2 linked regions of the Homo sapiens genome follow. The protein of the gene in region 2 interacts with the protein of the main gene of each other region in a pairwise test. Each region holds a gene or a part of one and is shown on either strand. Other genes may lie near its edges.

What was found. The genes of interacting proteins can lie anywhere in the genome.
Region 1: the proteins of CEP97 (region 2) and CCP110 interact in binary tests that used the Homo sapiens proteins (3 or more experiments, as listed by UniProt).

The regions. Positions count from the first base shown.
Region 1 is NC_000016.10:19,540,937-19,547,978, reverse strand, and holds part of CCP110 (centriolar coiled-coil protein of 110 kDa), read right to left. Parts: intron 6,093-7,042; coding exon 5,915-6,092; intron 5,359-5,914; coding exon 5,219-5,358; intron 5,102-5,218; coding exon 4,985-5,101; intron 3,183-4,984; coding exon 3,081-3,182; intron 2,886-3,080; coding exon 2,769-2,885; intron 2,163-2,768; coding exon 2,089-2,162; intron 1,568-2,088; coding exon 1,505-1,567; intron 25-1,504; coding exon 1-24.
Region 2 is NC_000003.12:101,719,648-101,727,627, reverse strand, and holds the start of CEP97 (centrosomal protein of 97 kDa), read right to left. Parts: upstream 3,015-7,980; 5' UTR 2,952-3,014; coding exon 2,909-2,951; intron 1,035-2,908; coding exon 892-1,034; intron 246-891; coding exon 87-245; intron 1-86. UniProt on the Homo sapiens protein: Acts as a key negative regulator of ciliogenesis in collaboration with CCP110 by capping the mother centriole thereby preventing cilia formation. Required for recruitment of CCP110 to the centrosome.

The DNA of each region.
Region 1 (7,042 bases), on a different chromosome or scaffold from region 2:
TGTCCTTGGTTTGGCTGAAGGACTCTGTTGACAAATTAAATGAAAAATTAATTTAATAGGTTAAATTCCATTTTTTCCCATTTTCTTTCAACGGATGAAAGATGATGACTGTAAGGTAAAGGTCAACTATGCAATAATATGGCCTATATATTACCACAAATCAGAGCAAATCGACTAAAGCATATTAATATGATACTTGTATTTTGCTCACTAAGAGTCCAAACCTTAGGTTTTTATCAGCAAAGAAATGTCCAACATATAGACTAACCCTTGTGCTTTTAGATAATTTTCTTATACATATGCTTTACAAAAGCTAACTTTTCCCTTCAAACCAGTGAGAGAAGAAAGTATCACTCTCATTTTACAGGAGTAAAAAACAGGTCAGAAATATTAAAGTTCGCTTTTTAGCTTTATTTTTTATTTATTTATTTTTTTGAGATGGGTCTTACTATGTTACCCATACTGGTTTGAATTTCTGGGCTTAAGCTATCCTCCTGCCTCAGCCTCCCGAGTACCTGGGACCATAGGAGCATGCCACTGTGCCCAGCTTAAGTTAGCTTTTTTTTGAGACGGACCCTTGCTCTGTCGCCCAGGATGGAGTACAGTGGTGCAGTCTCGGCTCACTGCAACCTCCGCCTCCCAGGTTCAAACAATTCTCCTGCCTCAGCCTCCTGAGTAGCTGAGCAGGCACGCGCCATCATACCCGGCTTTTTGTATCTTTTATTTTTGTATTTTTAATAGAGACAGGATTTCACCATCTTGGCCAGGCTGGTCTTGAACTCCTGACCTCGTGATCCACCCACCTCACCCTCCCAGACTGCTAGGATAACAAGCATGAGCCACTGCTCCCAGCCCAGCTTAAATTAGCTTTCTAAGGTTTTTAAATAAGTATCAAAGATCCTCTGGACTGTCTAACTGAACTCAAGACATACCACGCTCAAAATTTCTACCACAGATAGCATGTCCTACAAAAGGTCCGGGCACATCTGGTCTGACATGTGACTAGGTATATGGCCAGGTATTGGTATGAATCTTGAGCCTGAGGACGACCCCCGACCCAATTCAGCAAGAAGTGCTCTACTGATGTCAAGTAGAACAAAGTCAACAAAAATGAAGTTTGGGATTTAAATTTTAATTTTTTAACTTTTTTTTTTTTTTTTTTTGAGATAGAGTTTCACTCTTGTTGCCCAGGCTGGAGTGCAATGGAGCAATCTTGGCTCACTGCAACCTCTGCCTCCCGGGTTCAAGCGATTCTCCTGCCTCAGCCTCTTGAGTAGCTGGGATTACAGGCATGTGCCACCACACCCAGCTAATTTTGTATTTTTAGTAGAGATGGGGTTTTCCATGTTGGTCAGGCTGGTCTCAAACTCCCGACCTCAGGTGATCCATCCGTCTTGGCCTCCCAAAGTTCTGGGATTACAGGCGTGAGCCACCGTGCCCAGCCAATTTTTTTTTTCTATAAAAAACAAAAAGCCTCTCATTAAGACTAAGTGATTTTTCTCACCTTGTTTCAGAAGGATTTTGTTTAACCAGAAATTTCTTATTTGGCATTCCCATTTCAGCAGCTCTAACACAATATAAAAATAAGGACATAATGTATTTAGAGAAGGGAAGAAAACATGCTTACAAATGTAATACAGGATGACAGAAACAAATCATCATTTAGAAGCTGGTGTACTACTGGAAGACCTGTACTAAGCATATTAAAGACTGCATTCAAGAAAGAAGAATTTTTTAAAAAAGTTATTAAGATATTTTTCCCATTAAGTCTTTATTCCCAAGAAACCTTTAGGACATCAGAAAAGGAATATATTTAGGCACTGAATATAAAGATTAACTGTTTTTAAGATTAACCAGCTATCAGTTATATGAGTTGAATGTTGTCAAATTTAGTAAATAAATTCATCTAAGATGAAATGAGATTTTAGCACCTGATTTTAATAAATTTCTTTATATAAAGGGGATTTCTATCAGCTCAACTGCAGAAAAATTAACTCTTTATTTCTAAATTTAAATATGCAAATAGACCAACAGATGACTAAAATTAATTGGTTTGATAACTAACATGACATGATACAAAAAACTTACTTCATGTATTTCTTCCTATCAAGAGACTTCTGTGTTGCAGCTGAAAGAGCCACTCGTGGACTTTTCATTTTATCCTTTAATATACAAAAGTAACGTCAAACTCTACTGGAACCAATTAATACCACTATATTATAATGTATTATAATCCCACATTGCCTGGAAAAGCTTCTCTCTACTAACATTTTTAATTTAGTTAAATCATCTTGTTTTGTATTTTTGAAGCAGTCTAATTCTAAGAATTAAATAATTAGAATTATGTAAATTTTGCTTGCTTTTCCTTTGCCAATCACACTAAGATAACTGATTCAAATCACATACTCTGATATACTTCAAATTAACTTGGAGCCTGTTTTCTAACTCAGATTTCAAAAAAAGCAAAACCCACATTATAATTGAATTCAAGGAAATTCAATCAGGAGCAGCTGATAGATTGTATAAGCCATCTGAGCAAAACATTCAAAGCTTCAACTCTAAAATCCAATAAGAAAACAATATGTAATTCTTAAATGATGTAATTCTTTTAAATCTGTCTACAGATTTAAATGCTGCTAGTAATTCCAGGAATTACTTGTGCTTAAGAATTATCAGAAGAAGGGTGCTGAAGTCAACCAAAACTGACATTTAGTATCAATTACCCTAAACCCAGAAGAACTCTATTCATTAGAAATCATATAACATACCATTTGCCTGAGCATTTTCTCTTTGCGAACTTCTCGATCATGATGTAGAATAGACATTCTTTCAGCTGCATCCATTACAAAGAATATGTCATGAATACCGTACAAGGCAGCTCGCAACTAGGCACAAGAGAAGAAAATATTGTATACATTTAAAAGATGAGGTTAGAGTTCAGGAATACTATATACCATGTACACTTATTTATAGAAAAAGATTAAAATAGTTTTCATTGAAACCTATTTTCAGTGATTAAATAAAAAAGGAGAAATATAATATGTCCATGTCTTAAAAGCCTTCAGGATCCATGTATTTACCTGAGCTAACACTCTTTCCTGAAGTGAAGCATCTTGAGCTGAAACAATGCCTCTCTTTAATGGTGCTTCTGACTGAAAACTTCTTATGAATTCCATAGTATCCTGAAAAAAGAAATGCTCCTTCAAAAACATTTTTCTAGAAAGATTTGTGATCACTGGAGTTTGCTTTTTTCTTTTTCTCAGTCAATCCAAAATTACAGTCTTTCGTCAGTATCTGTGGGGGACTGGTTCCATGAATCCCTCAGATACCAAAATCCAAGGATGCTGGAGTCCCTTATATAAAATAGTTATCTGCATATAACCTAAGCACATCTCCCATATACTTTAAATCATCTCTAGATTAGTTAAAATACCTAATAAATGTACATGCTATGTAAATAGTTGTTATATTGTTTAGGAAATAATGACAAGGAAAAAAAATTTGTACATGTTCAGTACAGACACAACCATCATTTGTTTTTTCTGAATTATTTTTGATCCATGGTTCGTTGAATCCACAGATGTGGAACCCAGAGATAGAGGACCGACTGTACTAAGAACATAAATAAAACTATTACTTATCAGAAGTCAAACCACTCACTTTCAAGCAAGTCAAAAACACACAAACTGCTTCATTTACATGTTATTCATAATATTATCTGAGAAAGATTAACGATTATTGGGGGGACCAGCCCCCAATATTTCAACATAGGTTCTTTCTATTTTTCATAAGTGTCAGCCAGATGAGAAATAAAGAGAAAGAGTACAAAGAGAGGAATTTTACTGCTGGGCGTCCGAGGGGGACATCACATATTGGTAGGACCATGATGCCCACCTGAGCCTTAAAGCCAGCAAGTTTCATTAAGGATTTCAAAAGGGGAGGGGGTGCAAGAACAGGGAGTAGGTCACAAAGATCACATGCTTCAAAGGGCAAAAAGGAGAACAAAGATCACATGCTTCTGAGGAAACAGGACAAGGGCAAAATCAGAACTACTGATAAGGGTCTATGTTCAGCTGTGCACGTATTGTCTTGATAAACATCTTAAAAGGAAACAGGGTTTGAGAGCAGAGAACTGGTCCGACCACAAATTTACCAGGGTGGAATTTCCCAATCCTAGTAAGCCTGAGGGTACTGCAGGAGACCAGGGCATATTTTAGTCCTTATCTCAACCGCATAAGACAGATACTCCCAGAGTGGCCGTTTATATACCTCCCCCCAGGGATGCATTCCTTCCCCAGGGTATTAATTATTAATATTCCTTGCTAGGAAAAGAATTTAGCAATATCTTCCCTACTTGCACGTCCGTTTATAGGCTCTCTGCAAGACGAAAAATATGGCTCTATTTTGCCCGACCTCGCAGGCAGTCAGTTATGGTTGTCTTCCCTTGTTCCCTGAAAAACGCTGTTATTCTGTTCTTTTTCAAGTTGCACTGATTTCCTATTGTTCAAACACACATGTTTTGCAATCAATTTGTAGAGTTAACACAATAGTGGTCCTGAGGTGACCTACATCCTCAGCTTATGAAGATAACAGGATTAAGAGATTAAAGACAGGCATAAGAAATTATAAAAGTATTAATTTTGGGAACTGATAAATGTCCATATTAAAATGAAATCTTCACAATTTATGTTCAGCAATTGAAGTAAAGACAGGAGTAAGAAATTATAAAAGTGTTATTTGGGAACTGATATATGTCCATATTAAAATGAAATCTTCACAATTTATATTCCTTTGCTGCGGCTCCAGCTGGTCCCTCCATTCGGGGTCCCTGACTTCCCGCAACAAACAATCAGACTTCTAAAACTGCCTAGATTACAGTGACTAAAAAGCGTTTAAGTTCTGAACTAATCTGTTAGCTCAGCTGTCACAAGACTGATAGAAACTAAGACAGAAGTGAAATACAAACGATTTACAGGAATCTTACTTTTACAGTTTGTCGAAGTTGCTTCAGCTTATCTGTCTGCATAAGTCTACGAGTAAGAAATCCTTTTGCCACTGCAGTTATTTTGTTAAATTTTGCTTGTATTTCCAGACTAAAAACCTAGGAGAAAGAAGACAGACACAATGTTTATTGGTGTTCATTTATACAGTCTAAGATAATATAGCTCTTAAGAAAAGATAAATAGATAGATGGACATGTATCATTAAGTTTACCCACTTGAGACCATCTAGTTTTGGCTCTTCCAAAAGGCCTTGTTACTGAGAGTTTGGTCAAGCCACTAGTTGATGATCCCCAGAGGTAGAATGGTGCTTCGTTTGCAGAAACAAAGCTATATTGCATGGCAGAATTTGTGAAACCTAGAGAAACATACATATAGTATTATACTTGATGTCATATAATTAGAATACGAAGAACATCCCAATAAACACTTGTGACACTCATTAAGAATAACAACTGCCTCCAAAAATGACCTACCTGCCGACTTAAAATATTTATGGACTTTAAAGCTTACATACCAGGTGGATCTTTTCAACACAAACAGCATCTCAGGATAATTGAGATATGAAGATAAGCTATTTAAAGGGACTAGGGAATTAGAGGTAATTCAAGATCACTCAGGAGAGAGCAAACTGTTTTCACTTGAAGTATATCACCTGCTGCATGAATGATCAGACTGGGCTCTAAGCCAAATTTCCTGATCTTTTCCTGGCAAAGGTAATCTTTGTTCACAAACATCTGCTCACAAGTCTTTGATCTCCTATCATGTCATTTTTCACTGGTTACTAAGCAGCTGGCAAAGAGGGTTGGACATGGAATCATTTGAAAACAGGAGATATAATCTTATAGTGTGCCAAATAAATATCTTACCGTAGGATCACTTTCCCAAATGTAAAAGGATTTTTAAATATTTACCAGAACTATTTGAATTTGAAGTATGGAGTGAGTCCGCTTGAGACAGCATTGTTTCCAGCAAACTAGAGTCACTTATTTTTCTCCATTCTAATTCCACTGCATTGTTAATGTCCAACTCAGAGGCTTCCGCTGTCATTGCCTTCTTCTCTTTTAACATTTTCTCCTGCTCTTCTATTTCCTATACATGAACAGTTTATTGTAACATGCTAAACCTTTTAATTATGTCCCAAAATGATATCATTTTAGGCTTAGCCAAAAGTACATGTAATTATCAGCAATTATTATTTATTTCAAGTTTTTCTTCCTCAAATTATCCTTCCTTCCTTCTCCCTTCCCTTCCCTTCCCTCCCTCCCTCTTTTCTTTTCTTTCCTTCCTTCCTTTCTCTCTCTCTCTCTCTCTCTCTCTCTCTCTCTCCTCTCTCTCTCTTTCTTGTTTCAAGAAACAGAATCTCGCTCTGTCCCCCAGGCTGGAGTGCAGTGGCACGATCTCGGTTCACTGCAATCTCCACCTTGCGGGTTCAAGTGATTCTCCTGCCTCAGTTTCCCAAGTAGCTGGGACTACAGGTCCATACACCACCATTTTGTATTTTTTAGTAGAGATGGGATTTCACTATATGTTGGCCAGGCTGGTCTCAAACTCCTGACCTCAGGTGATCCATCCACCTCGGCCTCCCAAAGTGCTGGGATTACAGGCGTGAGCCACCACGCCCAGGCTATAATTTAATATGTGATAATGTATAGTTAAATTATTAATTATAATAATATTATAACAAGTGTCGTTCTTTTTTTTTTTCTTTTTATAGAGACAGGGTCTCCCTCTGTTGCCCAGGCTGGAGTGCAGTGGCTAGACAAAGGCGAAATCATAGCTCACTGCAGCCTTGAATTTCTGGGCTCAAGCAATCCTCCCACCTCAGCCTCCTGCATAGCTGGGACTACAGGCTCATGATACCACGCCCAGCATGAGTGTCATTTTTATGATACAACTCCTGCAGAATGTGTACTTTAGCACCTATTTATAAAATACCTTTTTAAAATATTAAGCTTTAAATCAAGGATTCAATAAAATATTCTCGATAAATTATGCAATTACTTTTAGATAAGGATCTAAATATCAAAATTCATATTTTG
Region 2 (7,980 bases):
TTTCACTTTTTAATTTGACTTATTTCTACATTGCTTGAATTTTTTTTACGCAGAATAGTTTTGTAAACAAAAAAGAAACCATTCACCTTAAGATTATTTCCTGCCAAATTCAGCCATTCCAGATGTACTAGTTCCTTTAGCCCTTCCACACAGCCAATGCTATTATGAGGCAAATTTAATACACGAAGCAACGTCAGCTTGGCCACACCCATCATCCGAACCAGCCGATTATTAGCTACTGATAACTGTAAAAAGGAAACATATTGTTATTTTTAGGAATAACATATATAAAATATTTCACATTAAAGTGATTTAAAAGGTTTATTTAGACAGCCAAACACTCTCAAACAAACTCCTTTTGTACATTTCACATATATTGTCTAAATATTCTACAGTATGACTATCAGTTTTTTGTTATTGTTCCTGGGCAATAGAAAATACAGATAAAGCTGAGCGATCAGACCTCCTCTAACTACTAAGACATTTTTAACACAGCAACAACTTGAGAATGTAAGTTCCACAAGAATAGTGCTGTTAAACTCTCAGTCAAAACTTAATACAGTGCCAGACATATAAGAGGGACGCAGTAACCATTTCTTGAATGAAGGAATGAATGAACTCTTTACCCCCATCATGAGGTAAAAGGTTACCTTAGTAACACAGTATTTTGCAAAATAAAATGCTTCCTTTTCTTAACAATGCTTTTTTTTTCTAATCTACTCTCAATGTAGTACATGTATGTTCATCTTCAGAAGAAACTGTCATGTAAAAATTTAAGGCAACAATGACTGCTTGCTAGGGCTGCACAGTTACTTTTTGTCAGGTTATTTTATTGTTTTGTTTAATAATAAATTGATCCTATGTAACCATTTCCCAGATTGCAATACCTACCTGTATTAATCGTTTGCATTTCTCCAGATTTTCCAATTTAATAATCTGATTTTTATCCAGAATCAAAGTGTGAATATCAGCTTCACAGGGTAAATTTGGACCTAATTTCTGTAGTCCCTGTCCTGACCAATTGACCACTGATCCTTGAAAAGAAACGGAAATGTTAGAAAACACAAATAAAATAAAACATGTACAACAGCTAAGCATAGGGCTGGAATTATAAAATCTCTATACCATTTCAAGTTAAAGAACAGTAGAGCATAATAAATATCAACATTGTAAAATTAAAGCAATCTTGAGTTCTAAATGACCAGATTGAATTACTCATTTTTCTTCAGAAATATCAAATTAAAACTAGACGTGTGATATTCTCCTCAAGTTGCTAAGATATACTTTGAAAATTTTCACATTTAAATATGGACGATTACTTCCATTTGTTGTGCCTAAGTAATGATACTATTGTTTAAATGTTACTAAACTTTTGACTGCAATCCACCAGCTTACAGCCTAACTACCAATATATCCTAAAGTGCCCAAACTGTGATTTTGAAAATCAAAGTATAGTTCAACTAATTCTCCCATAAAATAGGATAATACACCCATTTCCCTAGCTTGATATGAGAATTAAAAGAGAAACCATATGAATAGTACTTAGCCCCGTTCCTGCCACCGGGCACTCAATAAGGCACTTTAGTATAACATAGACGTTCAAACCCTGGCTCCACCAATTAACCATTGTGGTATATTAGGCAAATTATTGATTTCTTTTGGGCTCCCTTTTCTACTCTGTAAAGTGGGGATAATACCTGCCTTATAAATGTAGTTCTACAGAGAAAATGAGATAATGTAAAAAAAAAAACAAAAAAAAAAAGGACTGAGAACATCGCCTGGGTCATACAAAGTGCTCTGTAAATGTTAACTGCTATTAACAGTTAAGTAGCCCTGGTGGGCTTGAGAGGTGTGGTTTAAGAAAAGCCGATCTCCAAAGAGGGCGGGGCCAGAGAAACGGCCAATTTCAAATTTACACCCAGATTAGGACTACTGCAGGAAATAATTATGCCAGATTGCTCTCCTGGAGGATTTCAACGTTTTCCCGTTGTCTAATGGCTCTTAGCATGTGAGGAGTCGTGAGCCCCTCTGAAAAATTGATGAAAGGGGTGTGCTGTCTCAGAAAAGTGCACAGCCTTTGTACACAATTCCAAGGGGTCGACAGAGAGGTCTGAGAACCATCCACCAACTCTTCCCCCAAGAATTTACAGCTCCCAGAAAATGCACTCCTGGTCTAAGCCATGAAGACGGGCCTCGACCCCTGGGCCCTGTCCCCGATTTAGAGGACTGACTGCTGCCAAGCCTCGGAGCTGTAACCAAAACAAAAGCAGCTCGCGTCCGGCGCCCCAAAGAGGTAGGTATCTTCAGGCCACAGAAGCACCCACACAGTCCTGTGCTCTACTGGGCAGCGACCAAACTCGATCCTAGGACCCGTGTGCAAGAACAAGGAGTACAGAACTGCGGGCTCTGGATCATCCCTTAGATTTTATCACGGCCACTGGCCACCTCCGAGGAAGGGTTCAAAGCCAGACTAGGCAGCGGTCTCTGAGGGAAGGTTTTCCTGATGGTTCCAGGAACCAAGAAGAGAGGGAGATGTGTGAAGCGAAAGAGGGAGATCCCAAACATTTCGCTTAGGCACCCATGACTCAAAGTAAATGGTCAAGAAAGGTCATCGCAGCCCGAAATCCACCGCCTCCTCAGCATCGGGAGCGCGGGAGCCAGGGCGCCGGGCCGCGCGAAGGCTTCTGGGGGCTGTAGTCCCCCGCTCGGCCCTCACCGCGACGCCGGAGAGCTGGGAACGGCAGGTGAACTACAACTCCCAGAGGGTAGCCCGCCTCCGCGACGACCACAGATCCGCATCAAAAGAACTGGTCCAGAACTGCACATCTAAACCTAGGTTTTCTGCTCTCCACTATTTAATTCAGCTCCGTGAAGTAAACCTTAGGACTCGGGGTAGGGATCGCCTTACCTTCTCCGGGAGGCAAAGCCGCGTCCACGCGCGCCACCGCCATATTTGCTGCTTGCTAATAATACCAGGCAACCGTCCTCCCGCGGCTCTGTGGAGCTTGTAATCTGAAGGAGGGAGCCGGAAACTATAACTCCCAGGATGCACGGCTCCCAGACGGCCCAATTGGCTGCTTACGCCTAATGATGTGAAGCTGGAGTTAGAATCTGAGGGTAGTGAGCTCAGGGACCCTGGCCCACTCGCTTATTTGACAGATGAGTCAACTGCGTTATTAGATGATCATTTCACTTCCTTGTCCAGGCGTTTGCGAAATTTGACACTTTTACCATCGGGATGATTGTAAGGAAGCTACTTAATGCAGACTGCATTTTACAACTCATTGCTGGAAGTCTCTGTGGGGGCTGCTCCATTCTTTTGATAATTGTGAATAAGTTGAAAGTTTTCAACTCCGCTATAGGAATGACCGATCTTGTTGAGATCATAAAAGTGGATACATTTTATTTGAAATTTTAGTTAAGTAAAAGTAAAGTATGCCGAAATAGAAACTTTTATACAGTATTTTTAAGTGATTGTTTGATTGTTCTTGAATATTTGACAAATCTTTTGACTTACGGGTATAAGTATGAACCAAGAACTTTTCCAGGGAGTATTCAAAATAACTTTAAAATATAATCTCCAGGCCGGGCGCAGTGGTTCACGTCTGTAATCCCAGCACTTTGGGAGGTCAACGCAGGCTGATCACCTGAGGTCGGGAATTCGAGACCCGCCTGGCCAACATGGAGAAACCCCGTCTGTAGTAAAAATACAAAAAAATTAGCCTGGCGTGGCGGCGCATGCCTGTAATCCCAGGTACTCGGGAGGCTGAGGCAGGAGAATCGCTTGAACCCGGGAGGCAGAGGTTGCAGTGAGCCGATATCATGCCACTGCACTCCAGCCTGGGCAACAAGAGCGAAACTATGTCTCAAAAATATATATATTTTATATAGATATTGCATATATTATAATTATATATAAATTATATATTATATATGTTATATATTTAGATATTATATATTATATGTTATATATTTAGATATTATATATTATATATGTTATATATTTAGATATTATATATTATATATGTTATATATTTAGATATATTATATATGTCATATATTTATATATTATATATTATATATGTTATATATTTAGATATTATATATTATATATGTCATATATTTAGATATTATATATTATATATGTTATATATTTAGATATTATATATTATATATGTTATATATTTAGATATATATGTTATATGTTATATATTTATATATTATATATGTTATACATTTATATATTATATATGTTATATATTTATATATTATATATTATATATGTTATATATTTATATATTATATATTATATATGTTATATATTTATATATTATATATTATATATGTTATATATTTATATATTATATATTATATATGTTATATATTTATATATTATATATGTTATATGTTATATATTATATATGTTATATATTTATATATTATATGTGTTATATATGTTATATATTATATATTATATATGTTATATATATTATATATTATATATTATATATGTTATATATTATATATTATATATGTTATAGATTTATATATTATATATTATATATGTTATATATTTATATATTATATATTATATATGTTATATATTTATATATAAATATAGATTATGTATATAAATATATTTTTATATAGTCTCCAAATTCAAGAAATACATTGCCTAGTTGGAAGAAAGCAGGCTCACACTTTTTTCTTTTTTTTTTTTTAGAGACAATTTTTTTTTGCCCAGGCTGGCCTTGAACTCCTGAGCTCAAGTGATCCTTCTGCCTCAGCCCGGCAAAGTGCTGGGATTACAAGCGTGAGCAACGGCGCCGAGCCTTCTTTTGATGCAACTATTATATGCTAAACGGTGTGATTGTGACTGAGCTCACTAATATTTCAGGGAATTGAGAAAGAAATAGAATCTGAAATCTTCAGTGAAGACTTGATGGAGGAAGTAAATGTACCCATCTTTTGATGGGTAGACTGAACAGTTAGTTCTAAAGTAAAAGGTGAAAAGACAGCACAGGCTGCAGGTGGTAACGAAGTTGTGCTCACAGGAAGTGAGAAACTAAACAGAGTATACAAAAAACTTCTGCTTTCTACTACCAGCTCTCCCACTTCCTCTTGCAACCTTTATTCTGAACTCCCCTCTTTCTGAAACAGCAATCTGCAAAGTCTGATCATTTTTGCTTGGGAAAATCTAGTAATTCATGCTTCTAGATTTCCAGGCACTGGATTCTCTGAGCATTCCCCCTTTCCTGGGTTCTCCTATCTCTCTACACTTGTTTTAACTCCTTTCGATTCTTGTTTCCTGCTGCTTTGGTCTAAAGACAAATTTCCTAGTTCTGAAGGGGCAATTAAGACTAGGATTTTTTTCCTTTTAACCAAGAAACTCCTTACCTAGAGAACACAATCTTACTATATGTGTAAGAACAAAGTAAGGCCGGGCGCGGTGGCTCACGCCTGTAATCCCAGCACTTTGGGAGGCCGAGGCGGGAGGATCACCTGAGGTCAGGGGTTTGAAACCAGCCTGGCCAACATGGCGAAACCCCATCTCTACTAAAAATACAAAATTAGCTGGGCATAGTTGCACATGCCTGTAATCCCAGCTACTTGGGAGGCTGAGGCAGGAGAATCGCTTGAATCTAGGAGGCGGAGGTTACAGTGAGCGGAGATTGTGCCACTGCACTCCAGCCTGGGCAACACGAGCAGAACTCTGTCAAAAAAAAAAAAAAGTAAGGAAAGAAAGAAAAGAAAGAAAGAGAAAAGAAAACAAAAGAAGAAGAACAAAGCAAGCCTGAATACTGCCTCTGCTAACCCTTATTCCCTGGAATAGGCCATAGGGATCTGGGAGAAAGGGTTTATGGTTCTTTACAATTTAGCATGGTAATTACTTGATAGGGAGTCCTGGAAGCTTAAAAGGTACTTAAGAAGCAGAGGTTCCTGCAAGTTTACAGCAATAGCTGAAACATTGTTTGCCTGGTTCATCTGCCCTGGAATCCAGAGGAAAGGACCAAAGGACTTTTTTTATGCAGCTAAGTATAGTCACGGCTTTTAAAGTAAGTAGCCAGATGTTCCTGGGCAAGGTCTCACATGCCCAAGTGACTCAGCAACGCTTTAAAATTACTGCACAGAAATTCTTTTGTGCTTCAAATAATAGCTTTTACGCCTAAAATCAAATTGCTACACTTTAAACTGCCTCATTTTGTATATATGTTAAACTCTATAAGCTCAAACCAAATTAGGATTCTACTACTTAAAACTATGAACCTCTCAGTAAGGTAATGTTTCTCTGGCAGGCCCAGGCCCTATGAGAAAGACTTTCCTATCAGCACAGTATACTTAATCCCTACGACAGCTGATTACCCCGATCTTTGCCATCTCTAATTCATCTGCCCACAGTTACTGGCATGATCTAAGTAAAACAATGCCTTTTAGCATGTTATTCCCCTCTCAAAAACTTCTCACTTTAAGTTCAACTTGCAAGGGCCACCATAATGTGGCTTCACCCTACCTCCCACCGTTCATCCTACTCGTTTTCATTTGGTGTTTTTGAGTGAGGGATTGATATAATGATACTTGTGTTGTAGAAAGGTTAAACTCATATAACAAGGATGAATTGAAAGTAATAATAGAATTGAAAGGAAGAAGGCAGGAAGGAGATTGTCGTAATAGAGCCTGGTAACCTTCAACAGCGGTTTCAGGAGAGTATTATAAACAAGTTTAGATAACACGAAGTTAAGAGACTAGGTAGACAAGAAACTGGAACATTTGTGGATGGTGCAATTTACCTTGAGAAAATGAAGGTGGTTTTCTAATTAGGATTGAAATCATATTTGAAAGAAGTAAATGTAACTTTGAAGTTTTCATTCAAGTTTTAAAATGAAGAAGTTACTAATGTAAAGAATTTTGACACTGTAAAGATTTGGAAAATATGCGAATATTTTAACAATAAAAAAACCTTTTTTTTTTTTTGACACAGGGTCTTGGTTTGTTGCCCAGACTCGAGTGCAGTGGTACAGTCCTGGCTCACTGCAGCCTCGACCTCCTGGGCTTAAACAATCCTCCCACTTCAGCCTTCTGAGTAGCTGAGACTACAGGTGCACACCACCACACCTGGCTAATTTTGGTTTTTTTTGTAGACAGAGGTCTCACCATGTCGCAATCCTCCTGCCTTGGCCTCCCAAAGTGCTGGGATTATAGACGGCCACCATGCCTGGTTTAACAATAAAAAATCTTCATGCAAAGGTTTAGGTGCATAAAATTATAAATATCTCCTTTCTTGATTAATATTCATGTGTAGACTCTTCCGGTCCTGCTTCCTTATCTATAACCTATGGCATGGAAAGAGAGATTGCCAATATTCACAGGTTATCCAGATGGCCCAAATGAGATTAACTTTCCTCAGTTATTATTATTATTATTTATCTCCTGCTATGTGGTAGGCTTTGTGATAACTAGTTTACATATATTGGTTCTAAATTTCACAAAATCCCTACAAGTAGATGCCAAGAGGTTATGTTACAGTTGTTGGAAACAATATAGGACACCCAGTTAAACTTGAATTTCAGATAACAATGAATAATGTTTTAGTATAAGTATGTCCCAAGTATTCATGTTGCAATATACATCTTATGCAATACTTACATGCAATATTTAGGACATAGCTATATATAAAAAAGTGTTGTTTATCCAAAATTCAAATTCAACTGGTGTCTCATATTTTTATTTGCATTTATATTTATCTTGTTAATTTCCAGCAACCTAAAAAGAAGGACAGACAGAATTTTGGTTTTGTTTGTTTGCTTTTTGAGATGGAGTCTTGCTCCATAGCCCAGGCTGGAGTGCAGTGGCGCAATCTCAGCTTACTGCAACCTCTGCCTACAGGTGCCCACCACCATGCCTGGGTAACATTTGTTTCTGTTTTGTTTTGTTTTGTTTTGTTGAGACAGGGTCTCACCCTGTCACCCAGACTGCAGTGCA